7 linked regions of the Homo sapiens genome follow. The protein of the gene in region 3 purifies or fractionates together with the protein of the main gene of each other region. This does not show direct contact. Each region holds a gene or a part of one and is shown on either strand. Other genes may lie near its edges. The genes, in order: ZNF639, NLN, RASSF8, PLEKHA5, CREB3L2, POC1A and UACA.

Region 1 (3,962 bases), on a different chromosome or scaffold from region 3:
CACTTTGGGAGACTGAGGCAGGTGGATCACCTGAGGTCAGGAATTTGAGACCAGCCTGGCCAACGTGGTGAAACCCCGTTTCTACTAAAAATACAAAATTAGCCTGGCATGGTGGCTGACGCCTGTTAACCCCAGCTACTTGGGAAGCTGAGGCAGCAGAATCACTTGAACCTGGGAGGCGGAGGTTGCAATGAGCTGAGATCGCGCCACTGTACTCCAGCCTGGGCGACAAGAGTGAAATTCTGTCTCAAAAAATTAAAAAAGCAAAAAAAAAAAAAAAAAGAGGAAATTTGGGGGACAGACTTGCACACAGGGAGAACACCATGTGAACATGAGGCTATCCATCTACAAGCCAAGGACAGACCTGAAACAGATCCTTCCCCCACAACCCTCAGAAGGAACCAACTGCCAATAACTCCATTTTGAATGTCTGGCCTTCACAACTGTGAGACCATAAATTTCTGCTAGGTAGGCAACTCAGTTTGTAGTAATTTGTTATGGCAGCCATACGAACTAATATTGATGCTAATTTATCATTTTATTAATAAATGTTGTAAGTTATACATTTTCATGCCAGCAACCCCTATCTCCCAGATCTTCCTAACTTTAAATACTTCAGTGGGTTTTCTGTCAATGAACAATTTGACATCAGAAATTTGGGCAAGAGTCAGGCATAATGGCTCATGCCTATAATCCCAGTGATTTGGAAGGCCAAGGTGGGAGGATTGCTTGAGTCCAGGAGTTTGAGACTGGCCTGGGCAACATAGCGAGATCTCATCTCTACAAGAAATTTAAAAACTTAGCGGGCATGGTGCCACATGCCTGTAGTCCTAGCTATGCAGGAGGGTGAAGTGGGAGGATTGCTCGAGCCTGGGAGACTACAGCCCGGGAGCTATGATCAACCACTGCACTCCATCCTGGACAACAGAACGAGACCATCTCTAAGAAAAAAATATTAAGTCTGTGAATGAATTTATGGTTCCTCAACAGAAAATGAAACATCAAGTTATGAATGAGTTATGATATAGTTATTTTTTATTGTGTAAGCCCTTATTAGTTCCTCCCTCATCCCATCTTAAAATATTCAACAATAGATAGTGGCTCAAAAATTTTTTTTTAAAAAAACAGACTGCCATGAAAACCAAATCTTTTCTTCCTGTAATAGTGGCTTCCTAGTGTTATTTCTCATTAATGGGAGTATCCGTGGACTTAACTGTATATTGCATTTTAGTTCTGGTCGTGTAATAATTTAATGACTTCACACATAAAAAACTAATCTTGTCTTGAGTTTTAAAAAGTTACTAGCACCCATGGTTAAGGAAGGAAAACTGTAGCTCACTTCTTCAATACATTTGTTTCTTTTCAATTCATGAAATCAGAGAATATGGAAGAAACAGGATGACAGTCACCAAGAGTGGTTGAAACTACAAACTATCACGCAATTGAAAATACCACATTAAAGATATATTTATATACAGAAAATGGAGCAATGCCAATAAAATTTTATAATTTAAAAAAGTTACTTGTTAAAGGCAGATTTCATAAGTTGTGTTTACAATCATCCATTTAATCATCTCCAAAAAAAGGATGAATTTATTATTTTAAACTAACATTCTGTAAGTTAAAGAGAATAATCAAGTTGTCTCATGGACTGGAAGGTGACTTATTAATTCCCTTTCATTTCCAAACCTCATCAAGCAGTCACTACATTTATGAGGCAAGTCAGCTGAATGCTTGAAATCTAGATGAATTTTAAGATCTTCAATTTGTCCTGTTGAATATTCACAATATTGACATAAATAAATCCCTTCAGATAAATGTGAATTTAAATGCTTGCAATATTCTAGCATACTTGAAAAGCCTTTCCCACAGTCATCACAAACATGAGGAAAAATTTTTGTATGTTCAATAGCAACATGCCTGTTAACATTTGTGTGAAGTCTACTCCGAAAACCACATACTTGACATACAAAGAAGTTTTTACATTTGTCAAAGGTAATTTTGCTTAAGAGGCTATACTGTCCATGTTCACCATTGTTATACTTATCACTTAACTCTATTAATTTACATGCATGCTCATTTACCACATGGCTATGCAAGTCTTCTGGATCATTAGTTTCATGTTCACAGAACTGACACAAGTACTGTTCATCACAGCTGTGCTCCTGGAAATGTAGGTAGAGTTCACTGCTTGAGGAGAACTGTACATCACACTGTTCACACCAATAGAGGTGATCACTAAAATGGGTGTCTGCAATGTGCTGGCTGAGGTTCTCAAAAATTACTGTCTTATAATCACAGTATTTACAAATGTAGGGATCCTCTTCATGCAGTTTGGCATGTTCTATCAGAAGCATATTGGTAGAGAAACTTTCCTTGCATACTCGACACACATTTGAATCAGTACGTTTATGCTTCAGGATCATATGCTGCTTTAAGTCAGAAAAATATTTGCTGTTAAACTCACAAAGTTCACATTTATAGAGGCCACTGCTATTAGCTCTCAGTAAAGGCCATTTCTGCTGGGCAGTCACATTCAAAGCTTGGCTCTTGTCAAGAATTTTACAAAGTTTAGCTGGCGGTTCTTCATCAGTTTGGTCTTGGAGACTCTCAGAGGAATTGTTTTCTGTCTCTATATCATAATCCTCAGAAATCGCATGCACTTCTACAGCAATTGGAACATCTTCAGCAGTGTGAACTTCTATAGGACTCTCCTCTTGGGTTTGCTGGTTGACTGATTCAGGTGAGTCACACTCTTCATCACAAATTACAATATCAGCAGATTTTTCTGAAGAATAAAACAAACCTATTATATGACTATAACTAAATAAGATCTGTTAAATACAACTGGGCAAAAAAAAATTTATTGCATGCACTTTTTTTAAAATTCACCAATACAAAATATATCAATGCTATAAATTAGTTCCCCCAACCTGTAGAAAAGGCAGTGTGGTCTAGAATTCTAAGTACAGGACTGGGAACCAGGTAGTTCTGATTTCTGTTTCTGGCCTTGATTCCATCTGCAAATTTTGGCAAGTCATTTGACGTCTCGGTATCAGAATCATCATCTGTAAAAAGGGATTTGGAAGAATACTTATTATTTATACAATCAAAGCATTAATTATAGAACAAAGCATCAATTTTTAAATATGATTTTGAATTCCAACAGGAACTAAGGACTTGGATTTAGTCATAAAAAGATAAGTTATCTATATACCTCAGACACAGAAAATCTGCTCAAACAAGCAAATGCTTTAGAATTGATGCCCCATTTGGACTAGATTACACTTTTTGAAGTTCCTTAGGATTTTAAGTTTAAATTACTGAGTTTGAATAAGCCTTTATACCCTCAGGCCAGCCCCAGTGTTTCAAAGTTAGCATGGGGAAACTGAAATACAGGTTAATAGTGAAAACTGGGCTTCAACATTTTGCGAGGGACCAAGTTTTGCTCAGTCTGCCAAGGCTGGAGTACACTGGCATGATCATGGCTCACTCACTGCAGCCTCAAACTCCTGGGCTCAAGTGATCCTTCAGCCTCAGCCTCCTGAGTAGATAGGACTACAGACATGCACCACCAAGCCCGGGTAATTCTTGTTTTTTGAGATGGGGTCTTGCTATGTTGTCCAGGCTGGCCTTGAACTCCTGGCCTCAAGCGATCCTCCCACCTTGGCCTCCCAAAGACCTGGGATTACAGGCGTGAGCCACCACACTCAGCCCATCCATCATGTTTTCTTAAAATAGACCTTATTTTTTAGAATAGTTTTAGAATTACAGAAAAATCTGAGAGGATAGTATGGAGAGGTCCCATGTATCCCAGTTTCTCCACTACTAACATCTAACATTAGTGTGGCACATTTGTTACAATTAATGACCAATACTGGTAACTTATTAATAAAAGTCAATAAAGTCATCTAAATGCCCTTAGTTTTTAACCTAATGTCCCTTTTCTGTTCCAGGATACC
Region 2 (4,226 bases), on a different chromosome or scaffold from region 3:
GGCAGGTGGCGTGGTAACTATGTAAAATTTTGTGGCACCACAGTCAAATTGTATAGTGGAGTCAACCAGGGTTGAGGGGAAAACACAGAAAAGTTTTGGATACATGCCTTTCTATTATAATTTATCCCAATAAATTATGAACTCATTTGCCTTCTCCACTCCACTGTGAGCAGCTCCAGTTCTGGGGTGTCTTTTTGTATCCTCATTGCCAAGCACAGCGCCTGACACATAATGGGCACGTTAGAGTCTTTGAAATGAATTCAAAAAACAAATGTTTGAAAGCACATTTTTAAAGACAGTAGTTCTTAATTTCTTCTGATTAAAGCTAAGGACTCTATCCCTAGAAAAATGCAGGTATCCATGCACACGAACATATCTAATATAATTTCAGGGCAATCATGGGACATCTGCTTGCTCTGCCCTTTTCATAGACCCCCCAAGAAAACCAGATGAACAAATTCCGAGGTTTCAATACATAATCATAGGGAGAAGCTGAGAAGCTTTAGAAACGTTCTCCATTGCCAATTTTTTTCTTTTCTTTTTTTTTTTTTTTACAAAAAACATGTTTCTTTCATTTACCTCATGCAGAAACTCTCAGTACACTAAGAAAGGACTCTCATGTAGAAATCTGCCCCCCGCAGGTGTAGAAATAACTTATCCACATAGTTTTAGGTTTAGTTACAAATTAGGTATTTTGCAGTTACCATAGAAAAAGGCATCTTTATAACAAAAGATAATTTTAAAGAAGGTATATTTATTTAACAAACATGTATGAACTATTCATTAACAATCCAGGACTGTGGAGGACAGGGGACAGAAACAAGCCTCGAAGAGATCACAATATGGTGGAGTGCATGCATGGCACACCTGGCTATCTGAATCAGACGTTTGCCTCTGTGTGTGTGATGAAGACAGTAGTGAGTGGAATGGACAGAGAGTAACTGTAAATTCTGTAGGGAGGAAAACGAACGTTTACTCATTCTCTAACAGTCTTTTGCTTTACTATGGTCATATACAACAGTTAATCTCCCATCCTCAGTTCCCAGATACCCACCAGAAAACCGGTAATTAACCTCTGGATAAACTTTCACTGATTACAGATGAGGAGCGAGGCAACCTTAAGCCATAAACAATATTCCTACAGTATGGGGGAGCCGCAATCATCTGAATGCCAGTTTTCAGAGCCAGCCTGTGAACGTTTCATCTGAGGGATGTTTTCCCGATGATCATCTTATCATTATCGCATCTTAAAAGCTGGAGAAGCCCTAAAAGCCGGTTTGGCACAAATGTCAACTCAAGGGAGGAATGCCCTCTGTAACACTCCTGGCAGCTACAGGCTTTCCACAGCAGCGGAATGTATTTTTAACCAACAAAAAGTATTAGAAACAGCTTCCTCGTACTGAACTAAATCCTCCTCATATTTTCCAACCGTTTCTCTAATGGAATTTAATTGTTTCCATTTGGTTTCTGAAGCAATACAGAATTAGCCTATTCTCTCTCCCATTTCCTTCAAGAATTTGAAAACAATTATCATCTGTATTTCTGAATTATCTCCAGACTGAACTTCCCTAATTCTTTTTTATTTTTCTTTTGAGAAGTATTTTCAAAGTTATCACCATCTTGTTACTGCTCCTGCAAACACTGTACTACTTGGCCAAAGTCTGCTTAAAATGTGATATCTAGAAAGGAACACAATATTCCAACAGTAATTGATCTTACACTGGAGTCCGGGGGGATTATTCTTTTGATCTAGGCACATACTTCCATCAACACATTCTTAAAAAGCCTTAGTTCTCGCCTCCCGTCCCCCTCCCCCGGTGTGCTGTACCATGAGCTGATATTGGAATTTGGCCAAATAAAACTGCCAACTCTTTTTTCCTGAATACTACTATCAAGTCAGGCTTCCCCTTCTTTTACCTGGGTAATGGAATGTGTCTAATTTCATTTTGAGCTTGTCTCCACATTGAAATATTTTTAAACATTATTATTTTTTTACTTTTGAGACAAGAGTTTCACTCTGTTGCCCAGGCTGGAATGAAGCGGCACAATGTCGGCTCACTGCAACCTCCACCTCCGGGGTTCAAATGATTCTTCTGCCTCAGCCTCCTGAGTAGCTGGGAGTACAGGCATGTGCCACAACACCTGGCTAATTTTTGTATTCTTTAGTAGAGACGGGTTTCGCCATGTTGGCCAAGCTGGTCTTGAACTCCTGAACTCAGGTGATCCACCCATCTTGGCATCCCAAAGTGCTGAGATTACAGGCGTGACCCACCTTGCCCGGCCAAAATAATTTTAGATGTTAATAACATCATCATACTTAATAATTCCAGCCCTATTATCTGTACATTTGATACCTTTTTATGGGACTTTTTTTTCATTTTTAGCCAAATGACTTGAAATTACTCCCAGTTTAACGTTAATCATCATGCAACTATCTCAGACTGTTTCAATAGCTAGTAATCCACCTGGATAACTATTATCCAGTCACATTCTCCATCTTAGCCACAAAGATATCAACAGCAATGCGTGTCTTGCTGGACGCAATGAACAAACTATTTCTAGCCAGTTTCTCTCATGACAAATGCTAGAGACATTTTATCATAGGAGTACAATTGAGGTGAGCCTCTGGGGTCTATGAAATATGCAGCTAGTACAGGTTCCAGCTCATGTGAGCAGAATAAGGGAGTCTATTTCCTGTTCACCCCTTCCCCTTGTACGTACATCGTGGACTAGATGTGTTGAACCTGTATTTTCTCAGGAAAGGGAACTACAAGGTGAATTCAACCAAATCAAAACTCAGGAATCACGGTGTGGTGTGGGGGTGTGTGCATCGCTGTGTACATTACCTCAATTTTTCAAATTTTGTTTTGTTACAGACGTACAGCATTATTGTGTTTGTTAAAAAAGGCTATTTTGGTCTAATATTTACATCTTATAACCTTTACCTTTTGCCTTGATACAGCTGATACTAGATAATCACTTAGGTGGATCTGTTTCCAGTGGGAAATTTCTCTATTAAAGGTGACTCAAAAAATAAACTTTTTGGACGTTGACTGTTTTTCGAAGAACTGAGGGTATGTATGTCTTTCCTTTTCCTTTTTTTTTTATTTTATTTTAAGACAGGGTCTCTGTCACCCAGGCTGGAGTGCAGTGGCGTGATTATGGCTCATGGCAGCCTTGACCTTCTTGGGCTCAAGCAATCCTCCCACCTCAGCCTCCCAAGTAGCTGGGACTACAGGCATGTGCCACCATCCCTAGCTAATTTTTTTAGTTTTTGTAGAGACAGGGTCTCACTGTGTTGCTCAGGCTGGTCTCAAACTCTTGAGCACAAAGGATCCTCCTGCCTCAACCTTCCAAAGTGTTAGGATTACAGGTGTGAGCCACCACATTCATTTCTTTGTTGCTTTTATTCTCACCACACATTTATAAGAGAAGGCATGTTCAATTTCAGTGGGCTATCCAATTTCAGATGGGAGACATCTAACTGTAATGTGTTGATTTGAGGGAAGAAGCTGTGGTCACTGCATCTATTCAAATAAAATGGATTTTCTCTTTTAACATTCTTTGGGGGCTCAGTTAACTATGTTTAAACCCTATTTGAGGAATCAGTATTCGTTATGGACTGAATGTTTGTGCCCCATCCCCTACATTGAAGCCGTAACAGCCAATGTGATGGGGTTAGGGGGTGGGGCCTTTGTTGGGGGTGACTGGGTTTAGATAAAGTCATGAGGAAGGAACTCTCATGATGGGATTCCTGCTCTCGTAAAAAGAGACACTCTAGGGCTTGCTCCCTGCCACTGCTGCCTGCAGAAGTTTCTAAACCCTTTATGTTCCACATCTGCCTCCTGTCTCTTCCCATGGCTCTCTACAGAGCTATTTGTAACATGTCTACCTGACACTTTTGGGGATGTGGTCAGTAAAAGAGGAAGAGGGGCCTCACCACGAACCAAATTTACCAGCATGTGGATTGTGGGACTTCCCAGCTTCCAGAACTGTAAGAAATGTCTGCTTTTGAAGCCACCCAGTCTGATATTTTGTTATAGAAGCCTGAAGTATGATGGTATTTTAATGTAAATTTTAATGTAAATTTTAATCCACCTGTGTATGATAGAAAATGAATAAATGGTAAACACACACTGGCCTAGTGGGGAGGCAGAATCTCCACAGACCTATAATTCATACATAAAAGCTAAAGGTAAAATGGTAAAGTAGAAAATTGAGTCACT
Region 3 (5,028 bases):
ATCTAATATATATTAGATGTTCTACTCACCATAGCATCCCTTTAAGTAGTGGTATCCCCATTTTCCAGAAATGCAACTGTAGATCACAGAGGCTGAAGTGGCATGGCCGAGCTCACTCACCTCGGGAGTGACAAAGTCACACGTGCAACCCAAGTCTGGCTGGCAGTGGGGTAAACATTCTTTCCACTATACAGAATACTTGGAAACTCTCTCTACACTTTGAATTTTTAAGTCTATTTAGGGTTAGAGCAAGTTAGCATCAAAGAAGAGTAAATAAACGTTATATTATTTTGTAATCCAAATCTTTAATTTATGATGCATGTTTTTCTATCCAACTCCCATTCCCACTCCACTTTTACTTGCAAAGAGTTTTGTAATGTTTTGAACACTAGCAAGATATCTAAGATCTTAATGTTTTATAATAAAGGAGCAAAGCCATTATGCCAGGAATTAACCATAAGAAAAAGACAACAATATCCCACGGCAAACAATATTTTTACTTCCAAGTCATTATATACATCAACATAAAACAGATCAATTAATGAGTCAGAAACCCTGAAGAACTAATCATTTCTCAAAACACAAGGCAGTCAGGTCAAAAACTGACGTAAGTCACCACGTATAGAAGCCTACAAGAGCCAAACACTGAAGATTCAGGTTAAAAGGTTGCAACCTTAAAAAAATAAATAAAAGGCAAAACAAATTATACAACCATGTCGAATTTTAAATCTGTAATTACCAAATATCTGAACCAAATGCCAAATTCAGGAAACATGCATCCTATAAACAACTTAAACACTCTCTGTTCTTTGTAACTGTTTTTTCCAGAAGCACACTGACACTTCTGCAAAGTGAAGTGCCTTTCCTGCCTGCACAGCCCCATGATTTGCTCCCTCTCAGGGCCCTCTAATGCACCCCTAAGCTACTAAAGCCCAGACATAAGATTTGATCAATAAACCTAGAAAGAACTCAGTGCATTACTGCCAATTGTGTCCATCACAGAAAGTACCACCTGGAGACTCTTGAGGAAAAAAATGAGGAAGGGGGAGATTTTTGAAAGGTTTTATCATCTGTATTACAAATTATATTTTGTTGTACTTGATCCTTGAATAGAATAATCATCAAACTATGTTCAGTCTTCTTCAAGTGGGGGATGGTCATGTGTAATTTTATGGTTTGGGGAGTGTGCCTCATAGAGATAAATAAAATTAAAAGTACCATTAGTATGCCCGCTAAAAGATAAAACTCACACAAACCACTTCCCCAAATGATAGTGCTGTCTCCTGCGTCCTGATTTTTGCGTCCACCCTGCACCTCTCCCTGCAGAAAGCTGGCTGGCATTCACTACCGCCTCACTCTGGCAAAGGACAGGATGTCGAAAACCCATTAAGAAAGCTTCTCATTTTCTGTTCCTTCATAACATGATGGCAACTCCTGGCAACTCCAAGATGAAAGGCAAAAAAGAAAATAAAAACTACCTGGGGCCCCCTACCAGAATGAGTGGTTAATCTAATGGAGAGAAAAGCAGAGATTTATACATATTTTAAAATGCTTCCTGGGGACAAAGCAGATCTAATGAATTGCTGAGCCACAATCTACTGGAAAATCCATAAATGTTCGTCCCTGCTGTCACAGGGCTAGAGGATTTTTTTTTTTAATGAAATGCTTTAATGCTAACCTGACAGGGCTAACCTGACAGGTTTAAGTCAGCTATGAGACGTGATTTGCATTCATTTCGCTTCTAAATCCCTAAAGATCAGCAACAATATTGACCCGCAATTATATATCCTACGTTGCACTGTTCAAGATGCCATTTGAGGCTGGGAAAGTAGTGGTTTAGCAACACCAGGCGGCTCTATGATGCTAAAATAACAACGCAACACTGGATTCCGAACCCAAGTACTCATCTTTTAAAACCCAGTGCCGCACCAGGACCCACATTCAAAGCTCGCGTCCCTTCAAGTTGAATCTTCCGGCTTTGTGCGATTTACCCTCTCAAACTTTCTAGTTTGCAAGTCAGAATTACTTTGAACGTCCCCTCTTCTGGACTCCCCTCCCCAAAGGGACTGGCGGCAAAGGAGAATAGAATGCAGATGGTTAATAGTTCAAATGAAATTTAAAAACCTATAAACCAATATTTTTTTAGAGGAGAAAAGCGTTCACCAAACCGCCACCCGGCAAGCGAGCATCCGATTTCCATCCGGAGGAAAAAATATTTTAAAAACCAGACATAAAATTCCCTTTGCAAGAAAAGTGGCCTCTAAACTCCCTTGCCAAGGACACTGGGAGGAAGCAGAAAAGCAAAGACCAAGCTCGTACTTTTCAGTCCGCGGCTTGTGTGCCGCGAGGAGAGGCGCAAAGGGTGACACACCAGGAAAGGTGAACGCAGAGGGAGCGGGAGCCCGCGGCGGGGCAGGGTGGGGGCGGAACGGACGAGGTACCCAAGGTGCGGAGAGAGGGGCAACCGGGCGGAGGGCAGCTCCGAGGCTGCAGGCGGGACGGGCGGGGTCCCCGGCGCAGCCCGGATCGCCGCCGCTAAGTAAAGTTAATACTTACTCAGTTTCGCAACTGCGCCGCCCCCGCAGGCCGCCCAGAGGGGCCGGCCGGGGCGCTGGGGACGCGGCGGCACCCGGAGCTCCGCGGCCGCCCAGCGCCCGTCCCCGCGCCGCACTCCCCGGCACTCCCCGGCGCTCCCCGCGCCGCGCGCCCCGCACCGGCTGGAGGCCCCGGCCCCCCGGCGTTCCCTCTCCGCGCACCTCCCGGCCCGCGCTAGGTGAGTGTGGACGCCACTGGCGGGGGTGCCGCGGTGCGCGAGCGCTCGGCCAGCGGCAGAGACGCCGCGGGAGCCGCCCCCAGCGCCAACGCCGCCGCGGGCGGGAAGGGCGAGGCTCGGCGAGGCTGGGCGAGGAGCTGGGCGGCAGACGCTGAGCGGGGCGCGGCGCGGGGCGCCGGACGAGCGCGGGCGTAGGAGGAGCGCGGGCGTAGGAGTCGGCGACCCGCTCGCTCCCGCGGCCGGTGCCTCTGGGCTGGGGGCCGGGCTGGGGGCCGGGCCGGGCCGGGCCGGGCCGGGCGGCCAGGCGGCTCCGCCCCTTCGCCGGGCAGCGGCTGAGCGCGCGAGAGGAGCGGCGCGGGGGCGCCCCCCTCGGCCGGGCGCTCGGGTTTCAGCCGCCGCTCCTCCGCGCCCCGCCCGCGCCTGGCCCGCTCGCCGGCGCCGGGAGAGACCTCGTAACGGAACTGGGACGCCAGCGCTGCATTGTGGGAGCTTTTAAAGCGGCGGGGAGCTCGGCGCGACCCTCGGGCCCACCGGGCCACGCTCGCCCGGCCCGCGACGCCCCCCCGCTGTCGCCTGGCCCGCGACGCACCGAGGCCTGAGGACCCGAAAGCCGGGCGCGGGGAGATGACCGGTGGCTCGTGACGGTCCCACGGGCAAAATCTTCCATCGCCCGGGGCTGAGACTTGTCAAACTGCCCTCTACGGTCACCCGGAAAGTAGGAGGCTTTTTCTGCAGAGGGGAAAAAAATCAAAAAGAGCCGTTCCATCCCCCCTCCAAGGACTGGGTTTGAATTGCTTTTCATCTGCAGTGGCTGTGATTCAGCGTCCCTCTTAGCAGCAGGCAATGACAGAGGCAGGAGAGGGGAAAAAAAAAAAGAAAGAAAGAAAAAACACAGCAAATGAATCAAACGGACGTGAGTAACAAAAGTTTAGAAAGAGCTGGGCTCGTATTCAGAAAAAACGCCTCATCCCCCCGCCCCGCTGCACTCCCAACCCCTTTAAAAATAGCAGATAATCAAGAAAGGAAACGGGTGCTTTCATATGGAAATACAGATGTGTATGTTGTTTTCAATATTCTACTGTTTTTTTGTGTGTGGCATGCAATTACTCAGGCACTGGGCAAAATTCAGCCTTTGGATTTTGTGGTCACACATACCCCAACTCCGCAACAGCTATTAATTTGCAGGGCGATGGGGTGCGGATAGTGGATGAGATACAAGAAAGCATTCCAATTAAAATGCCCCCCCCCACCCCGCCTTTTAATTTTCCAGACACTTGCTTTTATTTTTCTTTTTTTAAACATCATCAAAACAAGAATATTAAACTTGAAGCAGAATTTGTTACAGCGTATCTGACTCAGGACCTGATTTAAGGTTTGGGGTTTTTTGGCCCTTTGTTTCTTCCTCTTGTTTTTTGACCTTTAGTTACTCCACACCTCATTAGTTCCTTGACCTGCAGGTGGACTGAGAAGAGAGCCATGGTAAGACTCAAATTTGTCAAATCAACATTTGGAGAGGAGAAAGTTCACTGTGATTCAAATGCAAAACCAAAGGGAATATGATTTAAAAGTCAACCTGGAGGGCATGGATCCTCCCTTAACCCTACTTGACTCTTTTCAAAGGAGTTGCCTAGCCTTAAGGTGAATGTTTCCTAACCTCTCATTCCCTTCTCAGCCTTTCACTCCACTGAACAACATCAGCCATTGCTTAATTGCCAAATCTAATGGAAAAATTTAATTCCCATCTTGTGCCCTTTGTGGCATTTGCCAATGTTGACCTCTCCTTCTTAGAACTTTCTGCCTTTTGGCCGGGCGCGGTGGCTCATGCCTATAACCCCAGCACTTTGGGAGGCCAAGGCTGGCAGATTGCCTGAGGTTGGGAGTTCGAGACCAGCCTGACCAACATGGAGAAACCCCGTCTCTACTAAAAATACAAAATTAGCCGGGCATGGTGGCACATGCCTGCAATCCCAGCAACTGGGAGGCTGAGGCAGGAGAATCGCTTGAACCTGGGAGGCAGAGGTTGCAGTGAGCCGAGATCACGCCATTGCACCCCAGCCTGGGCAACAAGAGCGAAACTCCATCTCAAAAAAAAAAAAAAAAAAAAAAAAAAAACTTTCCTCCTTTCTTTGGCTGTGGTAGTGATCCCTCTTTTGTGTACTTCTTGAAGCAGGTAGCAGGCAAGAGTGTGGTTATCGTTGGACCAGGATTCAGGATCTGACTGAGTAGCTGACTCTTAATCCAGTTTGTGTTGATCA
Region 4 (4,020 bases), 6.6 Mb from region 3:
GCCCAGCTAATTTTTGTATTTTCAGTAGAGACGGAGTTTCAACCATGTTGGCCACAATGGTCTCGATCTCCTGACCTTGTGTTCCGCCCGCCTCGGCCTCACAAAGTGTTGGGATTACAGCCGTGAGCCACTGTGCCCGGCCAACATAATGTGATTATAAATAGCAATACAGAATAAAAAATGTACCGCTGGCAACGGCAACCCCCTTTGGGTCCCCTCCCATTTTAGGGGAGCTCTGTTTTCACTCTATTAAATCTTGCAACTGCAAAAAAAAAAAAAAAGTACCAAACGTAGCTGAATCCAAAAGATCAACAAAATGAGCAAACATTTGCATAACTCCACTAAAATACGTAATAATTATTGAGCTGCCTACATCGTAGTGTCATTTGTAAAGGTTTCCTAAATCCTGCCAAAACCACTAGTTCAGAAAGATGGCATATGCATAATAGGAAGATATGAAATAATACAAGTTTTCATGCCTTTAGTTATTTGTGGTAGTTGCATACCATGAGACTAGAAAATATCCGACAATAATCATACCTCATTACAGTATGCCACTGCTCTTGGAATAAGAAGAAAACAAAATAAAATCCTATAACAATTTAAGGAACCTGGAAATATACTTGAGTTTTAACTCTGAATATCCTTTATTATTGGAAGGATATGTGTACAGTCATAATCTGTTTATTGAATCAAAATATTATGTGAATGGCTCTTAATGTATACATTTTTCTACTAAGAGGTCATCAAGTCTTTACATAGATGAAATCAAATGAGTCCAATGTTTATTTTTCCTATGTTTTGTGTTATTACGTCACCAGTAGCAACAGTCACCATTTTTTTTTTTTTTTGAGACAGAGTTTCGTTCTTGTTGCCCAGGCTGGAGTGCAATGGCACGACCTCGGCTCACTGCAACCACTGCCTCTGGGTTCAAGCGATTCTCCTGCCTCAGCCTCCCAAGTAGCTGGGATTACAGGCATGTGCCACCACGCCCAGCTAATTTTGTAATTTTAGTAGAGACTGGGTTTCTCCATGTTGGTCACGCTGGTCAGGAGCCAGGTGATCTGCCTGCCTCGGCCTCCCAAAGTGCTGGGATTACAGGTGTGGGCCACCACACCCAGATTTTTTTTTTTTTTTTTGAGACAAAGTCTTGTTCTGTCACCCAGGCCGGAGTGCGATGGTGTGATCTCGGCTCACTGCAACCTCTGCCTCCCAGGTTCAAGCGATTCTCCTGTCTCAGCCTCCCAGGTAGCTGGGATTACAGGCGCCTGACACCATGCCCAGCTAATTTTTGTATTTTTAAGTAGAGATGGGGTTTTACCATGTTGGCCAGGCTGGTCCTGAACTCCCGACCTCAAGTGATCCACCAGCCCTGGCCTCCCAAAGTGCTGGCATTACCGCACCTGGCCTCAACAGTCATTTCTAAACATATTAAATTAAAAGTTTAAACATAGCCAGGCGTGATGGCTCAATCTTGTAATCTCAGCACTTTGGGAGATTGAGGCGGGCAGAGCGCTTGAGCTCAGGAGTTTGAGACCAGCCTGGGCAACACGGTGAAACCCCTACTCTACAAAAAATACAAAAAAATCAGCCAGGCTTGGTGGCACAGGCGTGTGGTCCCAGCTACTTGGGAGGCTGTCGTGGGAGGATCACTTAAGCCCAGGAGGGCAAGGCTCCAAGATCTCACCATTGCACTCCAGTGTGGGTGACAGGGTGAGACCTGGTCTCAACAAAAAAAAAAAAAAGAAAAAAGAAAAAAGAAAAAAGGCTTAAACACAAGTGACAAAGGCAGAACACAGGTAAGACTATCACAGTTAGGTTATTTGTAACTCTCCAGCAAGCACTTCAGTCCTGCACAGATACCAACTGACAAAAACAGAAGCCTCTTTGAGGTTCCAGGTAGACATAATCTCAAATAAAAGTTACAAATATGAAAAGACAACAAAATACTTTGGGCTGAAAAAAAGGGCACAGATTATAGTTCCTACAATAAGGTGTGAAAGGAAGTAGATTCCAGAAAACAGGATGGGAGGAAATATTTGCAAACTATGCATCCAACAAAGGACTAATATCCAGAATCTGGAAGGAACTCAAAACAAATCAGCAAGAAAAAAAAAACAAAAACAAATAATCCCATCAAAAAGTGGGCAAATGACGCGAATAGGCATTTCTCAAAAGAAGGTACACAACAATGAGATGCCTCCTTATTCCTGCAAGAATGGCCATAATTGGCCGGGTGCAGTGGGTCACGCCAGCACTTTGGGAGGCCGAGGTGGGCGGATCATGAGGTCAAGAGATCGAGACCATACTGGCCAACATGGTGAAACCCCATCTCTACTAAAAATTCAAAAATTAGCTGGGTGTGGTGGCACACGCCTGTAGTCCCAGCTACGGGGGAGGCTGAGGCAGGAGAATCACTTGAACCCTGGAGGAGGAGGTTGCAGTGAGCCAAGATCACGCCACTGCACTCCAGCCTGCTGACAGAGCGAGACTCCATCTCAAAAACAAAAAAAAAGAATGGCCATAATTTAAAAGTCAAAAAACAACAGATGTTGGTATGGATGTGGTGAGAAGAAAACACTTTTACACTGCTGGTGGGAATGTAAACTAGTACAACCACTACGGAAAACAGTGTGGAGATTCCTTAAAGAACTAAAAGTAGATCCAGCATTTGATCCAGCAATCCCACTACTGAGTATCGACCCAAAAGAAAACAAGTCATTACATAAAAAAGATACATGCACATGCATGTTTATAGCAGCACAATTTGCAACTCCAAGGGTATGGAACCAACCTAAGAGTCCACCAACCAAGGAGTGGATAAAGAAAATGTGGTTTATATACACCATGGAATACTACTCAGCAATAAAAAGGAACAAAATAATGTATTTTGCAGCAACTTGGATGGAGCTGGAGGCCATTATTCTAAGTAAAGTAACTCAGGAAAGGAAAACCAAATATCATATGTTCTCACTTATAAGTTGGAGCTACACTATGGGTATGCAAAGGCATACAGTGTGGTATAATGGACTTTGGAGACTCAGAAGGGAGAGGGTGGAAGGTCGGTGAAGGATTGGGTACAACATACACTACTCGGGTAATGGGTGCACTAAAATCTCAGACTTCACCACTATACAATTCTTCCATGTAACCCAAAACCACTTGTACCCAAAGCTAGTGAAATTTAAAAAATGCTTGAAAAGGAAGAAAAAAGGCTGGGTGTGGTGGCTCACACCTGTAATCTCAGCACTTTGGGAGGCTGAGGCGGACAGATCACTTGAGCTCAGGAGCTTGAGATCAGCCTGGGCAACATGGTGAAAACTCCATCTCTGCAAAACAATTAGCCTGGCATGGTGGCATACACCTGTAGTCCCAGCTACTCAGGGGGCTGAGGTGGGAGGATTGCTTGAGCCTGGGAGGTCAGCCTTCAGTGAGCCATTGAGCCATGATCTTGCACCACTGCACTCCAGCCTGGGTGACAGAGTAAGACCTTGCCTCGAAAAAAAAAAAAAAAGGAGAGAAAATAAAAGAAATATTTTGAGAATGTGAAAATCAAAGAGGCTAGGCACAGTGGCTCATGCAGTGGGAGGGTAGCTTGAATTCAGGAGTTTGAGACCAGCGTGGACAACTTAGTAAGACTGTCTCTATAAGAAAATCGAAATATCAGCCGAGTGTGGTGGCGTGCACTTGTGATCCCAGCTACTTGTGAGGCTGAGGCAGGACGACTGCTTGAGCCCAGGAGGTCAAGGCTGCAGTGAGCTGTGATTATGCCACTACACTCCAGCATGGGGGACATCTCTGAAAAAAGAAATAACATAAAAAAAACAAGAAAATAAAAAAACAAAAAGATGTTAGTACTAATGCTTATAATGTCTCTATATGTTTCTGCTGCTGTTCAGCAGAAAATGGTGGTAATCCTAAAGCACCAAACTTACTAGATATGGTAGATGCTGTGAGAAAGAAAATGCAGAAAAAGGCATAACATTCTTACTCTACACCAGAGCTTTTATAAAAAGTTAA
Region 5 (4,436 bases), on a different chromosome or scaffold from region 3:
ACTGCCCGATGAACGCAACAGTTTGCCAGCAGGCTTACTTTTTCTCCAGGCTGTCCATGTATTCTTTCTTCTTTCTCCTACTTTCCTGAGCAGAAATCTGAGAGAGAGGAGTGGGAGGAGAATGATTAATTTCCAGCTCTGTAAGTAAACCAGTTAAGATGGGAGGTGGTTAGCGTAGAAGTCACCAAAGCCCTGCTTACTTCTGCAAGCTGCTTGCCATTTGTTTAAGCTGCTGGTTCATTGACTAGTCTGTCCTCCCGGGTTTCTAGCTGCCAAACTCACACCTACTTTCCTACAAACCAGGCCACCAGTAAAATGGACACTGAGTGGCCAGGAGCAGTGGCTTACACCTGTAATCCCAACACTTTGGGAGGCTGAGGTGGGCGGATCACTTGAGGTCAGGAGTTCGAGACCAGCCTGGCCAACATGGTGAAACCCTGTCTCCATTAAAAATACAAAAAAATGGCAGGCGCAGTGGCTCTAGCCTGTAATCCCAGCACTTTGGGAGGCCAAGGCGGGTAGATCACCTGAGGTCAGGAGTTCAAGACCAGCCTGGGCAACATGGTAAAACCCCGTCTACTAAAAATACAAAAATTAGCTGGGCGCGGTGGTGCATGCTTGTAATCCCAGCTAATTGGGAGGCTGAGGCAAGAGAATCGCTTGAGTCCGGGAGGCAGAGGTTGCAGTGAGCTGACATTGTGCCACTGCACTCCAGCCTAGGTGACAGAGAGAGACTCCATCTCAAAACAAAAAACAAAAAACAAAAAAATTAGCCGGGCATGGTGGCACACGTCTGTGGTTCCAGATGCTTGGGAGGCTGAGGTAGGAGAATCACTTGAACCTGGGAGGCAGAGGTTGCAGTGAGCCGAGATCATGCCACTACACTCCAGCCTGGGTGACAGAGTGAGACTCTGTATGAAAAAAAAAAAAAAGAAAGAAAGAAAAGAAAAGAAAACAATGGACACTGAGTGAAGAGCCAGGCCAGAACATGTGGCTCACAAACCATCAGTGTGGTCTCAGATAAATGAGTTTAACTCCTGGACCTCTGCTGGCTGAAGTACATATATAAAATAAGACAGCTGGCTTGGTCATACATCAACTTGCTGCTGGTTCCGCACATGGATAGAGTGACACTAAGCTCTTGTCTTCCTTCCCTCTTTGCCCCCTCCCTCCTGGTAGGCCTGTGCCTCAGCCATCCCCCTGGTTTTCATCAGGCCTGCTCAGCACTGAGGGGCCCAGGGGTAGGAGACTACTGAGTCCAAATATAGACCAGCAAACTGCAGAAGTTTTGTGATCACAAAACCCTACCAAGAAAAAAAAAAATTAACCAAGCACTTGCAATGTATTTGTATCTTATATATATATAATATATATATATGCTGTATTTTATATAGATACATAGAGTACATATATATGTCTACTAGAGGAAACTATTGTATATATCATACACCCAAAATTTAAAAGGCTGAGTTAAAAAAAAAAAAAAAAAACTAGATGGAAATTCTAATAGCTTCCTCCCACCCGTAAATGTATCATCGTGGGCACCAAAGAGGTAGATACTGATCTGGGAGTCTGCTGGCCTCAAGAGGGATGGGATGGGCTGGAGGAAGAGAGGGGCACGTGGTGAGGGTGCTCCTCCCAGGGCTTAGGGAAGGGAAGGGCTGGGCCTTGGTCTCCACCATGGGATGGGGTAGTGCTGGCCGTTGGGAAGGCAGGGAAAGGGATGCTGACTCGATTCTGCTCGTCTCTGCTCTAGAAGTGCCTAGATTTGAAGAGCTCACCTTATTCTTGATCTTCCTCCGAATTTTCTTCAGGGCCTTCTCCTCTGATTTTGACAGGGGCAATTTGGTGGGGATGGGATAGCCCTCAGCGATCAGGGTCCTCTTCTCCTCCTCTGTCAGGACCAGAGGGCCTGATCCCTGCAGTTTCTGTGCAGACCAAGGAGCAGAAAAGGGTCAAAGAAAAAGAACTGGGACCACTGAAGAATCACCTCCCAATGGGATGATGAGAATCTGTTACAATGTCTTACAGAAGGCTCTGAGACAAGGATGCCCCATCTGCTTTGGGTGACAGATGGGTATTTTGAAGGGCATGGGAAGATGGGGAAGACACCCCCATGTGAGTGTTATAACCTAGGGATTATAATTCAAGGGAAAGAATAAAGAAGCCTCCACCCATTATTTCCCGGGAAGCACCCTACTCGCTAAAACATGAAAAGAAAAAGCAGAGAAGTCATTTCCCACATCCCTAGAGATTTCCTGGCCTTGGAGTGATGAAGGATTCATTTGCAGCCCTGCTTTGTGCAAGAATTTTGTTGTTCTCCTTCTGAAAATGCAGTTTTATAAGGTGCTCTCTACACAACAGGAGTCAATTCTCTCCTCCACTTTTAGCTAAGAGTGCAGAGCACCCAGGGACACATCTGCAGACTCTTTCCACAGAAGCCTCTGGCTTCAGCAGTCTCAGAATGTCCATCAACAATGAAGACAAGAACAGTAGCACATCTCATGGAACCCACAGTAGAATGGCATGTTTATAATTAATCAAACAGAGTCCCTATTGCATTTTAGCTCCATACTAAATGCCATGGAGGACTCAAAACAAACCCTACCTCTCAAGCAGCTTGTGATCAAGACTGTGAGACTGAACTGATACCCATGAAAGGATAAGAGTAATTAAATGCTAAACTGTAATCTTAGCTGATATGGTTTGGCTCTGTGTCCCCACCCAAATCTCATTTTATAGCTCCCATAATTCCCACGTGTTGTGGGAGGGACCCAGTGGGAGATGACTGAATTATGGGGTGAGTCTTTCCCATGCTGCTTTTGTGAGAGTGAATGAATCTCACAAGATCTGATGGTTTTAAAAAACAGGAGTTGCACTGCACAAGCTCTCTCTTTGCCTGCTGCCATCCATGTAAGACATGACTTGCTCCTCCTCGCCTTCCACCATGATTGTGAGGTTTCCCTAGCCACGTGGAACTGTAAGTCCAATTAAACCTCTTTCTCTTGTAAATTGCCCAATCTCGGGTATGTCTTTATCAGCAGCATGAAAATGGACTAATACATTAGCTAAAGGTGTACTAAAAATTTGAAGTAAGAGAACACTACTATGAGTTGTGTGATCAGGAAACGTTTAGGGCAGGAGATGAGATTTGAATTGGGCCTCCTGAAAGAAAGGGGATGATTTACATAAGAGAGAGGAGTGCATTCTAAGCAAAAGGCAGTATTTTGAAAAGTCACTGAAGAAGCCACTGCCTAGTGTGGGTAAGGAGTTCTTGAAGCAGCGGAGGGTTGGATACCTGATAATGAGTAAAGGTGTCAGGGCTTGGTACCAACAAGTAACAGGGAAATACAACATAGTTGTTGGGCAAGCATCCGACATGGGGAAGAGTTCCTCCATAAACATGTAGAATGGACAGATCATAGTAGTACACACAGGTATATAGGATACAAGCTATTCTAGTAATCCAAGGAGTGAAGTCAGGTTCAAGGTGAAAAGGTGAAGAAAGAGTGGAAGGGTGAATTCCCTTGTCCTCAGTAACGATGAAATTTAAGAATGTGGTTGCAGATCTAGAACTTTCAGGGACAGAATCAATACAAATTTTCAAAGTTATGTTAATTAATGGACGGATGGTACTTACAGAATTTTAAAACATCTCATTTCATTTAAATTTTCTAGTTGTGAGATTGTGAATTCAAAATAGCTGATTATAATTTTTAAAATTTCATAGAAATCAATTCACTCCTAGAACAATAAGGAGTTAACGATCTATTCTTCTTTATTATGGTGTCCTCATGTATGGGAGGGATGAACGAGGGGTCTTGATGTCTGATCTGAGTTTCTGGGTTAAGAGTCATATGACACACAGAAAAGGCTTAAACTGTTTTTGACCTTTAGGCATCAAAGAAATTAATCTCAGAGTAATTTTTAAGTTCACCAAAAATTGCTTCTTTAAAATATAAAAGGTATTTCCTATGACATAGGTCACAAGGACCATTAAATTAATGCAAATATTTATGATAGAACTTTGAGGAGAAAAACCCCAAATTTTTATTCCTCATGTCTATAGCTCTGTAAAATAAACATATGAATAAAAACTGGAAGTGTGCATGTGAAAAGGAAGAGAATTGTGGTAGTAAAAGGTGAGATGTGCGGGCAGTTCCTAGAAAGTGTTCTTTAGGGTTGACATCACTCTGCTTTCGCCATTAAGCAGAAACTTCTTGACAAAAGTAAAAACCAAACAGCCTTGAGTGGTCCTGCTCTGGATACAGCCCCAGGGGAATGAATGGAGAGGGTTCCCTTTGGTCCAGGAATGCCCGCTGCATACTTACATGAGGAGCCGTGAGGAGAGGGGAGCTGGAGAGGGCGGAGGGGGCCCGGGGTGCAGCTCTGGAGGGGCTGTGGGTCTGAGGCAGGCTGAAGGGGTGCAGGCGTGG
Region 6 (4,436 bases), on a different chromosome or scaffold from region 3:
TCCTGCCTCGTCGCCTTCCACTCCCATCTCTCCCTGTCCAAGTCCTCCCTCCTCTGCACCTGCCCACGTTCCCCAGGCAGCTGGGCAGATGTGCCCCATCCCCAAGCCCCAGCCCTTCACTCAGGCCTGGCCCAGAGCAGAAGGCTGAAGGAAGGATAGGAAAGATATGGGCTCCAAGTGGAGGCAAGCCCCACTGCTCTTCTGTTCCAGAAGCCTCTGTCTGAAAGAGCATTGGTAACAAACCTCAGGGCTTCCTATGGAGGGGGGTGGGGTGGGGGAACAGGTTCTTGTGGCTGGCCCCTGCCACCTGGTGGTGCTGTAGGGTACTACAGGCCTTAACCAACCAGGTTGGCCTCACCAGCCCAGACAGGACCAAGACAGTGTCATTGTCATCATCACTAACATTGTACCTCCTTCCCCCCATTTTGTGCCAGCCACCCTCTCAATTCTTGATATGAAACAACTCATTAAACCTCCCAACACCTCCTGTGAGACAGGCCCCATCATTGTCCCAGAGGCCCCACAGAGTCAAATGACCTGCCCAATATCACACAGCCAGGAATGCTTTAAAAGCCAGCTGCAGAGCCCACTCTCCACCATGTGCTGTTCAAGATTAGGATCTTCTCCCCATTCTGGGAAGGTGTGCTCACCTCTGTTACCCCAAAGAAAGTGCTGTACTTGAACACCAGGAGTCAGCTAGGAAGGGTGTGTGTGTGTCAGGGGTGGGTGGGGTCGGAACCCCACACCTGTGTCCAGCCATGTCCTTCCCATTTCAGGTGTGGCTTAAGGAAGCGAGCCCAAGAACTTTAAGCTTAGTCCCAGGTTAACAACCACGGTTCTTCAAACAACTCCAGCTCTGCCTCCTTCCTGGTCTCGGCCCTGGTCCAGTCTTGCTCATCTCTGTTTTGCCAGCTACACAATTCCCAGTTTCTCCAATGACCCCTCACCAGCTCCCTTCCCTGAGCCCATCCCTGGAACTGGGGCGCCTCATGGCCCTGCCCACTCATACTTGCTCTCAGGCCAGTTCCCTACCCAGTACTCTCAGCGAACTCATCCTGGGCATGTCTAAGTCTGCCCTCGCCCTCCAACTCCCACCTGGAGCCTGACATGAGCCCATGCCCACTGCCCGCCACCCTGCCTTCCAAGGGCTACCATCCTGGGCCTGGCCCCTAGCTAAGTCAACCCTCCCTATGACTCTACATCTGCGGAGGACACTGTAAGACCAGAGGTGGCCACGGTCCCACCAATGCTGGCCTCTACTGACAGCCCTGTTCCCTTTACCACAGGTCAAGGGCTGTCACCTTGGCCCTGGAGGGCAGAGCCTCCATCACCAGGAAAGGCAAGTGGCATGCCCCTGAGAAGTGGTCCTCAAGGGAAGCCCTGACCAGAGCCCCAGTGAGGACTCCCCATCTGGCCCTGCAGTATGTGTGAGATTCTGCCACTTCGGAGGTGAGCATTGACTGGCTCAGTGGAAGCCAGGTAGCACCAGGCTCCATCTCCTGGCCAAGGTTCCAAGCCAGGCCAGCCATGCCACAGACTCCCACCCCTGGAATCCCAACAAACCCAGGACACCTTCCTGCCCAAGGCCATCTCAGACCCATTTAAGCACTACAGCACAGGACAACATCCAACACCATCACAGTCCCACCAGGGCTGCCCTTGGGCCCAGGAGGCTGTTCACCACTCACACTGATAATGCTGCAGCAGCCGGTGAGTCCGCACGTCCCACACCTTCACTGTGTTGTCCATGCCGGCAGCGGCAATGCACGTCCCACTGGGGTGGAAGTCCACATAGGTGACAAAGCTGGAAAGACAGGGGCCACTATGCACTATAGGAGGTCTGCCCTGGTTCAGGACGGACCCAGAAACATTTGGTGCTTTCCCCATCCCTGTGTCCTGCCCACGCTGTTCCCTTGACCCAGACACCTCCTTTCTGTCACACTTGTTTACCAGGTGGCCAAGGGAGAGCAAGAAGAAGTAAAAGGTGAGAACAGTGGCCAGCAACAAACTAAGGTGGACTGACCAGGGAGCACATCCCACCGCCAATTTTCAATACAAGTTGAGAGAGCTATCTTCAAACCCAAAAGTTAGCCAGGCTCCCCTGGGATTTTCAAAGTTGGAGCTGGTACCCTTCCCAGGGGTGGCTGCAGGGCAGATCCTGCCAGCTGAGGCACAGGTGGGAAGGTCCAGCAGGACTACAGGGCCATTGGCCCACCCCTTTCTAGGAGACAGGCCAAGGACCCTCACCACACCCATATGTGATACCCAGGCTGGTACCATGTCCACCTCTCAAGGAGAAGCCCTTGTGGCTCCCAGCCCAACAAAGAAGGGCAGAAGCTGGGGTCTCTACTCAAATGTAGGCACCTCTCTCTCCTGATGATGTGGCACAATATGAACAGCCACCATCTGCTACAAGAACCCAACAAGAATTTTGTAAAGCCATCATCATGGATAACATACCAAGAGGCTTTAAAATGTAGTTTGGGCGACTGAGTGTCAACTGCTGCCAGACAGACATGTTGTAATCCTGACAACCAGAAAGTGAAGGAGAAAAAGAGGAGCACAAATAATTACACAGCTCCAAAGAATTGCATGGCTTGAGGTTAAGCACTCCTGCTATTTGTGGGATGGGGCCAAAGCTTCCATCCACACAGCAAAAGATACAATGCTAGGTTGCCAGACCTCGCAAAAAGCACCAGACAAGGGGCAGCAGTGATAAGGCTGCTGGTCCCACGGCTCCAGCCACTGAAGGCCACTGGGCCTCCTCATGCCCAGGTCTGTGCTCTGTGCTTGAGCGCCTACAGGTGGAGGACAGCATCTGGGGACTCACCCGCCATGCTCACAATACGAGTGGACACATTCCCGGCTGCTCTTGTCCCACAGCTTAACAGTCTTGTCATCACTGGCAGACACGATGAGCCGCCCGTCGGGGGAGAACCTGAACCGGGTGGGGCACAAGTCACATCACAGACTAACAGACGACATGGGCACCACACACCTTCTTCCACAGCCACTCTTCCCCGAGTGCCTACTATCTGCCTGCAGGAACCACCCGGGGTCACATGCCCTGCTGTGATTTTTTTTTTTTTAATTTGAATACCCTAATTTGTCTTTTCAGGAACAAATGCATTGCATCCTAGGAGGCAATGTTACTTCTGTTTATTTGGTCATATCTTAAATTATACTTTGTTTCTGAAAATAGTTAACTTTTAGCACATCATTTTTCTTTTTTCCTTCTGAAGAGTTTTTCAGGAAACTGTGACTAAATTTTGTTTTTGTTTTTGTTTTGTTTTTTAGACAGGGTATTGCTCTGTCACCCAGGCTGGAGTGCAGTGGTGTGATCTCAGCTCACTGCAGCCTCTACCTCCTGGGCTCAAGAGATCCTCCCACCTAAGCCTCCTGAGCAGCTGGGACTACAGGCGTGCACCACCACACCCAGCTAATTTTATTTTATTTTATTTTATTGTAGAGATGGGAGTCTCACTATGTTGCCCAGGCTGGTCCTCTAACTCCTGGAGTCAAAGGATCCTCCCACCTCATCCACCCAAAGTGCTAGGATTACAGACATGCACCTTCAAGCTCGGCCTATGACTTAATTTTAAATGTTATAAAAATGTTTCCTTTATTTTTTTCTTCCTGAATCTGTGAAACTTATTGATCTTTCCTGTTGCTCTTGTTTTCGTTTTCTTACGTAGCTTCATGAGCAAATAGCCCCTCTCCCATCCCAACAGCAAACTCTGACCAAAAGGGAAAAAGAGAAATTCTTCCTGACTTAGAGGAAAACCAAACATAAATAAACAAAAAGAAAAGAAAAAAAAAAAGGTGCCTGCCTCACGAGTGAGCACAGAGCAGCCTCATGCACATAAAGCCCCAGCACTGCCCCTGACGCACAGCACATGGCAACATGCAGCCGACTGCCTGCCGGCAACATTTGCATAAAGGTGGCCAAAAGCTCACCATCAGTGTCATTACTCTGGGACCAGGTCCTCCGAGTCTACATTTGACTCAAGTGCGGGTCAGCAAGACACAATCTGCCAACAAAAGGCATGAGGTCCTGGGGACTGCCACCAAAGGCCCAGTATGGACTTGACACCCCAGTTTGCTGGCCTGGCCCCTCCTGATCTCAGGACCCTAGTCATAAAGCCTCTAAGAGCCATCAGGGGTCTCCCAGGACAAAGGAATGGGGGTGCCCTGGAGAACAGTAACTTGTATGGGGTCCCCAGAAGAACACAGCTCAATAGTCCCCAACTTCTGACTCATGTGGTTTCCTAATGTCACCTGGCACCCCAACCCCTTCCTCTGAAGCAAAGATATTTGACCCATGGGGAAGCTCTGTTGAAAGGAATGAAATAAGCTAGAAGTAGGACTATCTGTCTGCAATTCTTGGACCTTGAAAGGTCCTTTGGGTTACCTGGCCCGCTGTCTGCACAGCACTG
Region 7 (4,436 bases), on a different chromosome or scaffold from region 3:
GCTTCCAAAATCTGTTTCTATAACAGCAGGATGTTTACATTTCAAACATTAGCCATAGTTGACTGAACTGAATTTCTTAGTTAACTTTATGATGCCAGAAGGCAAGACTATTTCTGATGTCAATTGCTTTTGTTATGTTTCATTAGGACACAGTAGAAAATAATTTCAAATTCCGGAAGTGCATATTATACAAAGTGGAAAGGCTTGTTAGTTTGCTGTATTTTTCATTAGGAGCAACCTCTTCCTCTCATGGCCAATACTAGTGAGTTTCTCAGCCTCTCTAATACAGATTTTCTGCTATTTCCCCACTTGAACTTCCTATTCACTGTCCCTCAATAATCTTCTCTAATAATTGCAATAAACTTTAAGATTCTAGTTTATCTCTGATTTGCTCAAAAGAGAGTAGCTAAGATCCCTTGTTCTATCATATCATTCATTCTTTTTCATTAGTTTCCCCTCCATTTCCTATAGAAGAGGCAGGTCTATTGATTTTAAGAATTTGATATCATAAAGTATCTTTCTTTTTATTATTTTATCTAGTTCTCTTTTTAAAATTGTTCTTTTTTTGAAGCTTTCTCTCAACATCCATCTTTCCCTTCTTCATTTTTTGTTTGTTTTTTTTTTTTTTTTTTTTTTTTTTTGCTTGTTTTTACAGTGTGGCCTAACATACTTCAAATCCAAATAATTCCCAGGATCTCTGTCATTCTAAAATTTGTTTCTTTTAGTACATTTTCTTCCTGAAAAAAAATCTATTCTGAGAATTTTGAAGATGCTGCTCACGGGGTTTCTACAGGAAATTAAGCATAGTATCCTTTATATGTTAGTAATTTCTTAGTATGATTTTAACAATAACTTTCTCAGTACACCCCTAAAAAAGGGAATTCATACTGTTATTCCTTAATTAATCCTTGGCTTTACCAAGCCAAGTTAAGGCTTGGTAAAACAGATCATTTTTAATTACTACAATCCTATACACATAACACCCTGCTTGTCACTTTTGTACTTTTCTAGTATTCAAAGCCATTCCCACTCTCCTCTTAGATGACAGCCACACGTGGATGTCAAGGCATTATCTCCAGCTAGCAACACCATTAACGTGTGCTACCATCACATGTTACCAAACTGTCTATAAACTGAGTGACAAGCAGATGGAGACGACACTAAATTTAAGATGTTGTGTTGCCATATAGCTTTGTAAATTTTTCTGGGAGATCCACAAACAATGATTAAAAGAAACATAATTATTTTTAAATAAGCATAGGGGGTGCAGCTACTTTAAACATCAATTACTTTCACATAAATTTATTTGAAAATAAAAAATTATTATCTCTAAAGCAATATTCTTTCCAAAGGAGAAGTAGTTCTTTACCTGTGCAGCACTAAGAAGGTGTGTCCGATAAATTGCAATTACTTCTTGGTGCTGTCTGTCAGCATCCTAGAAATGTGGAAAGATGGACAGATGTGACTATCAGCGTTCACATTTCCAAACTTTGGACAATGCTCAGGCTTCATGCTACAAAACTATTATTATTATTAAGGCGATCCTGCTACTTCTAACAACAAACTACCTTGGACCTACCAGATGCAGAATTTCAAAACGTAACAATATAAACTTCTGTAAAGAATGTGTGGCTAATGACAGTAATGCTACTTTCCCTAAGCAACATCAAATTATTGCTTTAGTTCATATCTAGTGCCATGAACTTCTGAAGACACTTATCACATGTCTGGATTATTGCAAACGCTTCCCATCCTGTCTTACTATCTCCACACTATATTCCTTACCATGCCTCTGAGACTAAGGTACCTATTTCCTCACATCACTTTTGGCTCAAAAACCTTGAGTGACACTTCTTTACATACATGAGAGAATCCAAATTCATCAGTTTGGTTCTCAATGACTTCCACAGTTTGGCTTCAAACATTAACTTTCAAATACAGCAGTCCCCTCTTATTGGCAGTTTTGCGATGAGCAGTTTCACTTTCTCTATTTCTGTTGCCCATGGTATAATACAATATTTTGAGATATAGAGAGAGACCACATTCACATAACTTTTATTACAACATATTGTTATAATTGTTCTATTTTATTATGTTGTTATTAATCTCTTACTGTGCCCAATTTATAAATTACTCTTTATCACAGGTATGTATATCTGGGGGGAAAACATAGCTTATATAGGGTTCATTCAGCAGGTCCTATCCATGGTTTCAGGCATCCACTGGGGATCTTGGAACATACCCTCAGTGGATAAGAGAGGGACTACTCTACAGGCAGGGCTTTTACTGCCCTCTGGCCATGCCACTTGTATTCCATCTCCACGCTTCTTTTACACTATTTTCTTTAGATGGAAGAGCCTCTACTTTCCTTTCACCTACCAAAATAGCATCTACGTTACAAGTTCAAGCCAGGTACTCCCTTCTTTAAAAACTAGCTTCTACCACACCACTAATCTTTCCTTCCTGGAAACCCCTATCACTTAGAATCTGCATTCTCAGTTCTACATTTGACATCTCTCATCTTGTGATTTTTACTTTTTATGAATCTGTATTTTGCCTCTCTAACTACCCAGAACTCCTTGGGGACAGGAATGGCATACTTTCTTTATCCCACTTAGCACAGGGTCATGAACATAATAAACAATAAACAAATATTTCCAATTATTAAAGGGACACTATACTCTTTGGATAAGATCCAAATCCACAATTTGCCATCCTTAATCTGTAGGCCTACAGTGTTAAAAAATAAACACTAAAAAAGAAACAAAACAAAAAACCTTTCTTCTATTAAAAAATAACTCAAACAATTCTATGAAATAGGGAAACATCAGCAACAATTTACATGTGACTGGGCCGTTTTACTTAGCATTTCAATGTGTATTAGTGCATAATTAAAAGCATAGTCCCAGATACTCAGGAAGCTGAGGCAGTAGGATCACTTGAGCCCAGGAGATCAGCCTATAGCAAGACCCCATTGGAGACAAGCCTAAGCCACATAGAAGACCCCATCTTTTGACAAAATTCAACAACTTTTCATGCTAAAAACTCTCAATAAATTAGGTATTGATGGGACGTATCTCAAAATAATAAGAGCTATCTATGACAAACCCACAGCCAATATCATACTGAATGGGCAAAAACTGGAAGCATTCCCTTTGAAAACTGGCACAAGACAGGGATGCCCTCTCTCGCCACTCCTATTCAACATAGTATTGGAAGTTCTGGCCAGGGCAATCAGGCAGGAGAAGGAAATAAAAGGTATTCAATTAGGAAAAGAGGAAGTCAAATTGTCCCTGTTTGCAGATGACATCATTGTATATCTAGAAAACCCCATCATCTCAGCCCAAAATCTTCTTAAGCTGATAAGCAACTTGAGCAAAGTCTCAGGGTACAAAATCAATGTGCAAAAATCACAAGCATTCTTATACACCAATAACAGACAAACAGAGAGCCAAATCATGAGTGAACTCCCATTCACGATTGCTTCAAAGAGAATAAAATACCTAGGAATCCAACTTACAAGAGATGTGAAGGACCTCTTCATGGCAAACTACAAACCACTGCTCAATGAAATAAAAGAGGATACAAACAAATGGGAGAACATTCCATGCTCATGGGTAGGAAGAATCAATGTCATGAAAATGGCTATACTGCCCAAGGTAATTTATAGATTCAATGCCATCCCCATCAAGCTACCAATGACTTTCTTCACAGAATTGGAAAAAACTACTTTAAAGTTCATATGGAACCAAAAAAGAGCCTGCATCGCCAAGTCAATCCTAAGTCAAAAGAACAAAGCTGGAGGCATCATGCTACCTAACTTCAAACTATACTACAAGGCTACAGTAACCAAAACAGCATGCTACTGGTACCAAAACAGAGATACAGACCAATGGAACAGAACAGAGCCCTCAGAAATAATGCCACATATCTACAACTATCTGATCTTTGACAAACCTGACAAAAACAAGAAATGGGGAAACCATTCCCTATTTAATAAATGGTGCTGGGAAAACTGGCTAGCCATACGCAGAAAGCTGAAACTGGATCCCTTCCTTACACCTTATACAAAAATTAATTCAAGATGGATTAAAGACTTAAATGTTATACCTAAAACCATAAAAACCCTAGAAGAAAACCTAGGCAATACCATTCAGGACATAGGCATGGGCAAGGACTTCATGTCTAAAACACCAAAAGCAATGGCAACAAAAGCCAAAATTGACAAATGGGATCTAATTAAACTAAAGAGCTTCTGCACAGCAAAAGAAACTACCATCAGAGTGAACAGGCAACCTACAGAATGGGAGAACATTTTTGCAATCCACTCATCTGACAAAGGGCTAATATCCAGAATCTACAATGAACTCAAACACATTTACAAGAAAAAAACAACCCCATCAACAAGTGGGCGAAGGATATGAACAGACACTTCT

The links.
Region 1: the proteins of RASSF8 (region 3) and ZNF639 purify together in Homo sapiens (affinity purification with mass spectrometry; 3 studies listed by BioGRID and IntAct, with this or other methods). This does not show direct contact.
Region 2: the proteins of RASSF8 (region 3) and NLN purify together in Homo sapiens (affinity purification with mass spectrometry; one large-scale study listed by BioGRID and IntAct). This does not show direct contact.
Region 4: the proteins of RASSF8 (region 3) and PLEKHA5 purify together in Homo sapiens (co-immunoprecipitation; one large-scale study listed by IntAct). This does not show direct contact.
Region 5: the proteins of RASSF8 (region 3) and CREB3L2 purify together in Homo sapiens (co-immunoprecipitation; one large-scale study listed by IntAct). This does not show direct contact.
Region 6: the proteins of RASSF8 (region 3) and POC1A purify together in Homo sapiens (affinity purification with mass spectrometry; 4 studies listed by BioGRID and IntAct, with this or other methods). This does not show direct contact.
Region 7: the proteins of RASSF8 (region 3) and UACA purify together in Homo sapiens (co-immunoprecipitation; one large-scale study listed by IntAct). This does not show direct contact.

What each region holds. Positions count from the first base shown.
Region 1 is NC_000003.12:179,332,095-179,336,056, reverse strand, and holds part of ZNF639 (zinc finger protein 639), read right to left. Parts: intron 3,069-3,962; coding exon 2,934-3,068; intron 2,789-2,933; coding exon 1,635-2,788; 3' UTR 1-1,634. UniProt on the Homo sapiens protein: Binds DNA and may function as a transcriptional repressor.
Region 2 is NC_000005.10:65,825,792-65,830,017, reverse strand, and holds the end of NLN (neurolysin, mitochondrial), read right to left. Parts: 3' UTR 735-4,226; downstream 1-734. UniProt on the Homo sapiens protein: Hydrolyzes oligopeptides such as neurotensin, bradykinin and dynorphin A. Acts as a regulator of cannabinoid signaling pathway by mediating degradation of hemopressin, an antagonist peptide of the cannabinoid receptor CNR1.
Region 3 is NC_000012.12:25,956,677-25,961,704, reverse strand, and holds the start of RASSF8 (ras association domain-containing protein 8), read right to left. Parts: upstream 3,024-5,028; 5' UTR 2,557-3,023; intron 2,380-2,556; exon of another isoform or gene 2,263-2,379; intron 1-2,262.
Region 4 is NC_000012.12:19,370,500-19,374,519, reverse strand, and holds part of PLEKHA5 (pleckstrin homology domain-containing family A member 5), read right to left. Parts: intron 3,799-4,020; exon of another isoform or gene 837-3,798; intron 1-836.
Region 5 is NC_000007.14:137,903,921-137,908,356, forward strand, and holds part of CREB3L2 (cyclic AMP-responsive element-binding protein 3-like protein 2), read right to left. Parts: coding exon 4,332-4,436; intron 1,929-4,331; coding exon 1,782-1,928; intron 98-1,781; coding exon 39-97; intron 1-38. UniProt on the Homo sapiens protein: Transcription factor involved in unfolded protein response (UPR).
Region 6 is NC_000003.12:52,144,158-52,148,593, forward strand, and holds part of POC1A (POC1 centriolar protein homolog A), read right to left. Parts: intron 2,939-4,436; coding exon 2,831-2,938; intron 1,805-2,830; coding exon 1,689-1,804; intron 1-1,688.
Region 7 is NC_000015.10:70,658,782-70,663,217, forward strand, and holds part of UACA (uveal autoantigen with coiled-coil domains and ankyrin repeats), read right to left. Parts: intron 1,436-4,436; coding exon 1,370-1,435; intron 1-1,369. UniProt on the Homo sapiens protein: Regulates APAF1 expression and plays an important role in the regulation of stress-induced apoptosis. Promotes apoptosis by regulating three pathways, apoptosome up-regulation, LGALS3/galectin-3 down-regulation and NF-kappa-B inactivation.